Linked DNA regions of Homo sapiens. The protein of the gene in region 1 interacts with the protein of each later gene in a pairwise test. Each region holds a gene or a part of one and is shown in the gene's direction. Other genes may lie near its edges.

Region 1 (3,987 bases):
ATAATTCAGAGAACTGTGAATGTACTTAGAAATACACTACAGGTCTTCACCAGATGAACTAGATTTTATAATTTTAAAATATAATACTGAAAGCTAGTTTGAAGTTTCAGAAGCCATGAATTATGGGGAAGGAGTAGTTTTTTATTTTATTTTATTTTTCTGATCTCAAGTTGTTTGTCCTGTTGTATGTTCAATACTTGGGGAGATAAGAGCGAGGTACAGCTGTGGTTTTCAGACCATATTCAGTGGTGCCCCTGAGGGTCTCTTGTGAACAGAAGGGAAAAAGAGTGTGATGAAGGTGAACTCTGCCTATCTGAACCTCTGTCAACCTCCAGTCAGAATATCTGGCTTCTAGTATTGTTCCTTTTAACTGGAAGTCTCTGTGGCCATTAAAAACTTGGGAACGTTGGATTAAATGACCACTTTAGGACTTTAAACAGTCTCAAATATGGGAAATTTTATAGCCAACCACGGCTGTGAGTCCCTGGCTTTTGCCGTACTGAGTATGCTCACAGAGATAGGGAGATAGGTGGCCAGAAGACAGGGTCATTTAATTTTAATTGAGCATAAATCATTTTGAAAGAAAAATGCAAGGAATTGTTGTATGACAGCCATGCATTATAGATCCTTACATGCGACATTTTCCTAAAGTGGTTGAGAATGACCTGATCTTTGTTCACCGTCTCAGTGACAAGGCGTGGAGTGACTGGGCTCTTCATATGCAGTGGAATTTTTGCATCTCTAGGTTTGCAGAGGCAGGAGTTACCGTTTTTGTTCATTGACCTATCAGAAAAAAGCAAATCCTTTGGACAATGTTGACACAGACAGGGGTACGGTCTGAGACTCAAGCTAACAGAGCTACCCCTTGCTGCCTTTTGCAAAGGTGTTGTAGGTGGAGAAGGGTAATGGAAACCTGGTACAGCCTTTAGAAGTTGGAAGCTATGGTGGTGTATCTGTCATGAACTGCACACAAGGGAATGCTTAAACACCAGCTGAGTCATATCAGGTGCCTTGTACACACACATAAAGAGTCTGGTGAATTCTGACAGTGTTCTGTTTGCCACTAGAGCAAATTTAATAGCTGGGGTTTCACAGCAACTGTTTTAGAAAACTATATGTGCCAAAAATTTACATTGGGCAGCAGTTTATAGTGTTCTTGGCCAATCTGCATAAAAGCCACTTGAGGAGGTTTGATTAAGAAAATTGTGTTTATCTCCTGTATTACCTCTGTGTTTGATTTATTCTTTAGTCTCAAATTTATTTTCTGAGTGGACTGATTTTCTATATGAACTGAAATGATGTTTTAATAGAATAATAGGTATTTTTAGAGGAAAAGTATTTTTTTGTGTAATTTGCTTACACAACTAGGACATACTTCCTATGATACTGAATCATCAAATTGAGTCATTTAAAGCTGAAAGAGGTGTTAGGAATGTAGTTTCACATTATTTAAATACATGAACAGTTTTCTATATATTTTGTGAAAATCTTGATGAGACACTAGAATTTCTTTATGGAATTGAACTTTACAAGAATTTTAATAAAAGAGGTGGATTTCTTCAGCTTTCTTTGTGCTTCAGTTTCATAGCTGAAAATGCTGCTTCCGTTTATTAATATGGACTTTGTAAGGAAACACAACAACACGTTTTCTTACCTTCTGTAAATTTTGTGATAGACACATGTTATTTGTATATATGATTGATTGTTTGCCTGTTGCACCCTAAAGTTATTTTCAAACCATGTTTATTGCAAAGAGAGCCTTTGGGCAAGTGGAAAATGCCCTGATGCTAGAATGAGGTAGTTCCATAAGCTAGTTAGGAGCTTGCTACCTCTTCTTGGTACCTGAAATATTCTGAAAGGATATCGGAGAGGTCCTATGCACCCCTGTCTTTCAAAACCCACCTCCAGCACTTCAAAGTAGTGTCTCTGGAGAGTTTAAAATAAAAGAATGAATGCTATTCAGTGGATTCCCTCATTGAGGCTCCCATCTTTCCTGCCAGGTGCAGCTTTTTCTGGTTGGAATCATCTCTTCTTTACGGATTGCCGCATTGTCTCTTTGTGAATGAGGCAGGCTGAACTGTAGAGCATGAAACTCATTAGAAGTTTATAAAGTAAAGACCTGTAAAGCATGTGGGTGGAATGTTTCCATGCTCTTGAGGTGAATATTAAATTTAAATTCTGGCCTTTGGGAACTCTTTGCTTGTGAGCTGAAGAAGGAAAGAAGGAGTTGGGGGTGTATATCTAACTGTGTTTTTCTATATGGAAATATATGAGCATCAAGTGATAACTTCAATAAGGCCTCAGGATTGTATTTAAAATACCTGTTTTGTGGGACAGCATGCCTTTGTTTTCTTTGCCTGTTGGCTTTGGTGGCTCCAAACATTTTCATTTTAGGCTAGCTTTCCTGTCACCCAGGTTGTGTGCATTTTTTTTTTCATTTGAACTATTGTTTATCATTATTAATGATGTTATCTCCAAATCCCAAAGCCAAGGAAATAGCCAGTATGCAGGACTTGCAGTAGATATAAGCATTGGTGTTAACATAGGTTAAGTTTTGTTAGTGTTCCCAGAAATATACTGAATTGAGGGATAATGTAGCTTTAAAGAAATTATGTTTCTTTTTAACATTTGGAGAAGCCACCTGTCCTGGGTCCCTATTCTTGAGAAATTCATCTTTTCATGCAAATAACATTGATGGGGGACAAGACTGGATGATTGACTTCTATCAGTCAGTAGACAAGGAAGTATAATAATTGCCAAAGGTGAGGGTAATTTTGCCTTACAAGTATGTAGGTCATTCTGTGGTGGGATTTCCCATCACATCTAGTAAAAAACAACCTTTTCATTTCCCTCCTTTCTAATCCAAGATCATATTTTTAAAAAGTAGGTTTCTGATGTGCCATGAAATATTTCTGTGAATCTGTGTTTTTGACCAAGGAAACAGCTGAGATATTAAACCATGTGGTTGTTCCACGGTTCATCTGGCTACCGTTCTGGGTCCCCTCTGACCACCTCAAAAAGAAAATGAAATTGGGAGATTAAATCAAGCTTGACCTCCTCTTTTAATGAGGAACTTTCACGTTGACTTCCTATCTCAGGATATTCTTCAGTTTCATACTGCTGAGGAGAAAGGAACAAGCTGCAGACACTGTAACTGGTCTCCAGATGTGTGTATATGCGTGTAAAACTTCACACCGTGTGTGTTGTGTTCAATGTTGTGTCAATCTACAAACTGACTCAAACAACAGTTTAACGATAGAGAAGACAGTGATAATGGCAAAAAAAACACCCAACCACCTTTTTCCGTCAAAGTGCTTGCTATGGCTTTCATAGCTGGGACAAGTAACATTAAGTATTCAGGAGCAAAGTGTTCTTGAAAGAAAATGGTGTGTTGATCTCATAAGAAAATGTACAACCAATAAAAGACATTTTAAAAAGCGTAGTGAGTCTGTACATTAATTGAGTTGTTGGAAACCCTATATTCCAGGAACATGGTATAAAAGGCTCTCCCGGTAAAAGCTTTCCTGGACTATATATTCTTGTTATTCTTTCTCTATGCTTTTCCTATTTCTACCACCGCACTTCCCAAACAGACTAGAACAAAACCTAACAACACAACAGTATTGCAGTCGTATTAGTCTGTTTTCATGCTGCTGATAAAAACATAACTGAGACTGTGCAATTAACGAAAGAAAGTGGTTTAATGTACTCACAGTTCCACGTGGCTGGGGAGGCTTCACAATCACAGTGTAAGACGAAAGGCATGTCTCAACATGGTGGTAGACAAGAGGAGAGAGAGAGCCCAGCAAAAGGGTAACCCCTCATAAGACCCTCAAATCTCTTGAGACTTACTCACTCTCATGAGAACAGTATGAGGGAAACTGCCTCCATGATTCAATTATCTCCCACTGGGTCCCTCCCACAACACATGGGAATTATGGGAGCTAAAATAATTTGGGTGGGGACACAGCCAAACCATATCAGCCG
Region 2 (3,818 bases), on another chromosome or scaffold:
GTGTATGCATGTGTGTAGGGGACGCATGGAATATTTTAATTAACAGTGATAATATTTTAATTAAATTCCAAATTTCCAAAAATAGTCTGAGAACGTGTTCACATGATAGGTATGTGGCTGTGGTGTCTCCTAAAAACTTGGAGTTCAAAGGTAATGCCCTCTATATCTACAAAGTCTCAAGATACCAACACATAATAGCTGTTCACTAAATATCAGTTCATTGACTTTTGAGCAAAGTCAAAATGTGGCCTTTCACTGAAGGAGTCCGAGGCCTGGGTTCCTACCTCCAGTGGGACTGTGACCTCTGTACAACCCCAGGGATCCTGTCTTATCTCTGCTTTTCTACCAGGGAACCTTTTTCCCACCTGATCTAACTCCTTTTCCCTGCAGCTTGACATATAAGACGACCATATTGCAGCTGTACCGCATGGAATAGCGGCTCCAAGGCCCACCTTCGGTGGTTTGCACACCCCTCTTTGCACTGTTCAGAAAAGCACCCCCTCCTTCCCGCCCCTCCCCCTCCTCACTGGTAGGGCCCGCACAAAGTCCACAGGGCTGAGGCTGGCTTCTTGAACTGAGCTCTTTGTGAGGAGCCTTCCTTTCTGGGGCTCTGCTGCCATCTAGTGGAAGACATGCACAAGGTTGGGGGAGGAATTGCCGAGAATGTGGAGAGGGGCCTGAATGACTTCACCTTTGAACCGCTGCCAGGTTTTAGCTGCTTCTGGTTTGGTCCGAGAGGCCTAGAAAGGTGCTTTCTTCTGGGAGATCTGCTTCCTTTAATAACGGTGCAAGACCAGTGGTTCGTACTCGCATTACCCTGTGAAGAGGAAGGGCTGGCATTTCAAGCCATCTTTGAAGATGATGGTGGTTTAGTAGTTTATTGGGGTGCTTTACCCCGGCTGTACACAGAAAGCCAAGGCAGATTTTAAAGCTTATGAAGAAAACATTGTTAGAATTGGGAACCAATTTGTTTTTCTCATGAGAGAGCAGGAAAAATCATCTTCATATGGTTCATTTGTTTCGAGAGGATGGTGAATTGAGATGTTCTTCAGGACACCCAAATCTTTCCAGGACTAGCCAAGCAATATATTGCTACAAACAAACTTGGCTTTTTCCTATTCCCTTTATCCCAGAAGTTGGGATTTGGAAGAGTCCTATTTTACAAATGAGAAGGCTGAGGCCTGGGAGGGAAAGGGAATCACCCCCAGCCCCACAGCTGTGGGACTGGTGCTCTGGTTGCTGGTTTAGCAAATGAAAGAGATTCCAGGTTCTCCAGGTGAATGGGAGAGAGGGTGCATTGGCAAACAGGCCCTGCCTCTCATTCTTCTGATGACAGCTCAGTGGATAGGCATATTTTCTGGTAGCACATACGATATTTTTAATGTTTTATTTTGGACCGTTTCCCTTTGAGCACAGTTTCCCGTAAGTATCTCAGTGAAAGAGGGAAACAAGGTTCTTTTTCAGGTGGGTTGCTGGTGAGAGACCCAAGAGACAGGGTTGTGTGGTCCCCACACTTGCACTGAGGGATGCTGTGACACTGAGCAGGCACCCTCACCTTGCCCCAGATCACCTCCATCTGCAAAATGAGGTTGCTAATGACCATGTGGTCCTTTAGTCATGATGACAATGGCCTGTGAAACATTTAGGGGAAAGGGCTGAGTGTCACATCCCCAGAATTTCTGCCTGATATGTAAAAGGGGAGTTTGAGCAGCAGAGAGATAAAGGCACTTTTTGGCACTAAGTAAAAGCAAGCTAATTGGTTGCCAAGGAGTTGGGCCAAGGAACCTTATTTTGAGCTTTATCTGTGTGCATCATTTTTCCATGAAGATTAAAAAGACTATTAATTCGGTGATAGAGACATATACAATAAATTACCATGAAAGGGCCACAATGACCTTGGCCGTATCTCATTGTAGGTTCAGCTTTCTGGGTGGGCGGGAAGCAGTATTGCCTGCAAGTCAGGGTTGGGAGGGGGTAAGGGGAGCTGGAGTGGAAACGAAGTAGAAGAAAATAGAATCTTGGCAACAGCTACCTGGGCTCTCATTATTTTCAGTGGAGCCTGACATTTGAAGCATAAGAAGAGCTGTCAACAACTTCAAAGCTTCAGGGGCACATTGACAAATGGGCCCGCCTTACAATCTAGCAGCCACGTCCTAATGAGCGGCCTTAAAACTGGTCTGGAGCCCAACCCCCAGCCCCCTACACCAGGTCAGCCTGTGGAATTTAGATTCTCCTCTTCTCTTCCTGCCTTCCCCTCCAGGAGTGGGAACTGGTGGTGCTGGGGAAGTTGAAGTGGAACCTGGCAGCTGTCACTCCTCATGACTTCATTGAGCACATCTTGCGCAAGCTGCCCCAGCAGCGGGAGAAGCTGTCTCTGATCCGCAAGCATGCTCAGACCTTCATTGCTCTGTGTGCCACCGGTAAGATGAGGCTTGAGCCGGGGAGGGAGATGGGGGAGCTCTTTTGGGAGATGTCCGGGGAGAGGCAAAAGGCCGTAGGAACTTTCATTTTAGTTCAGGAGTTTGGAGGAGGGGTGGTCTTGAGTAGTCTAAAGTCTGAAGTTTCATTCCTGGGTTGCTTTTTCTTTATCTGAGCTTTATATATTCGCTTTCTCTGCTAAACTCATAAATGGTTTATGAGGACAGGTGTGGTTAAGGCAAAAAAAATTAGTGCCTGTTAAAATATTCTTTATGATGGCTAAAGTGCTCTTTGAAGATTACATATACTGCTCACTGGTTGTGTTCAAATCTTTAATCTTTTAAGGAAAAGGATGGCTTGGAGATAAGCCCAAGAGGAAATCTCGAGGGGGATGGGGGCAAATACAGGTTAAAGGAACAACGTCAAGATAAATATGCTGCCTGCCTTGATTAGTGGTAAGGGAGACCAAAGAAATTCTTTTTTTTTTTTTTTTACTGTAGGGCATTTATGGCCTTCTAGCTGTTTGCTTCTCTAGCTGTTTGCCCCACTGGGCGCGGGAGGGAACCTGGTTGGCTTTCGGTGAGGCTTTACTTTCTGAGCGCTGGGTTCTGATGCCCTCAGTTCATGTGGAGGTGTTTTGATTTTGGCCGCAGCCTTTAACGTTGCAATTCCGCCTACCACGTGGATCCCACAATTGATACATCATTCCTACTGGCCCATTTGTTTTGTAGTTTCCTAATAAACCAAAGGCAGTGGTTTGCTGTTGTCTTATTAAACAGCCTTGGCCAGTGTCTACTGGTTTTTTGTTTTTTTTTTTCTTGGTAGTGGCCATGGCAGAGACCCTGGAACCTTACTCATCCAAGGGAGAGATGTCAGGAGTTCATGTTTTGACAATCAGAAACCTTAGGTAAAAAGCTGATCACTTGGGAAGACCTTTCGGTGTGCTTCACCTCAAATTTGCCAAGAGTAGTTAAATCGCTAGGTGGACTCACGTGGTAACTTTTTTCAGGATGTTGTTACATGTTACTGGTGAGTTCTACGGAACGGATGATTATATAACGTACGATGTAGTGCATATGCCCTGTGCTCACAGTCAAAAAGTCAGGCTTTGCTGCATATCAGTGAGTGACCTTTAATTGGCTGCTTAACCTCTCTGAACCCGAGCTTCTTCATCTCCAAAACAAGCCTATTGATACATCATCCTACAGCCTTTTCAGAGCAGCTAGGAAAATTAAAATCAGAAAGAGGTGATGCACGTGGACGTGCTTTGTAAACCGAAGTGTAGGTTGGACCTTCACTAATTGTGAAAATGCTACCATCTCCGATTTTCACCCTGATTTTAACTGTTCCGACTAAAGTGGATATGATGGCTTTCCTTTTCTGGCTGCCCTTACGTGTTT

What was found.
Region 2: the proteins of MAP2K6 (region 1) and CCND2 come close enough for resonance energy transfer, tested with the Homo sapiens proteins (one large-scale study listed by BioGRID).

What each region holds. Positions count from the first base shown.
Region 1 is NC_000017.11:69,550,424-69,554,410, forward strand, and holds the end of MAP2K6 (dual specificity mitogen-activated protein kinase kinase 6), read left to right. Parts: 3' UTR 1-3,442; downstream 3,443-3,987. UniProt on the Homo sapiens protein: Dual specificity protein kinase which acts as an essential component of the MAP kinase signal transduction pathway.
Region 2 is NC_000012.12:4,276,500-4,280,317, forward strand, and holds part of CCND2 (G1/S-specific cyclin-D2), read left to right. Parts: intron 1-2,260; coding exon 2,261-2,420; intron 2,421-3,818. UniProt on the Homo sapiens protein: Regulatory component of the cyclin D2-CDK4 (DC) complex that phosphorylates and inhibits members of the retinoblastoma (RB) protein family including RB1 and regulates the cell-cycle during G(1)/S transition.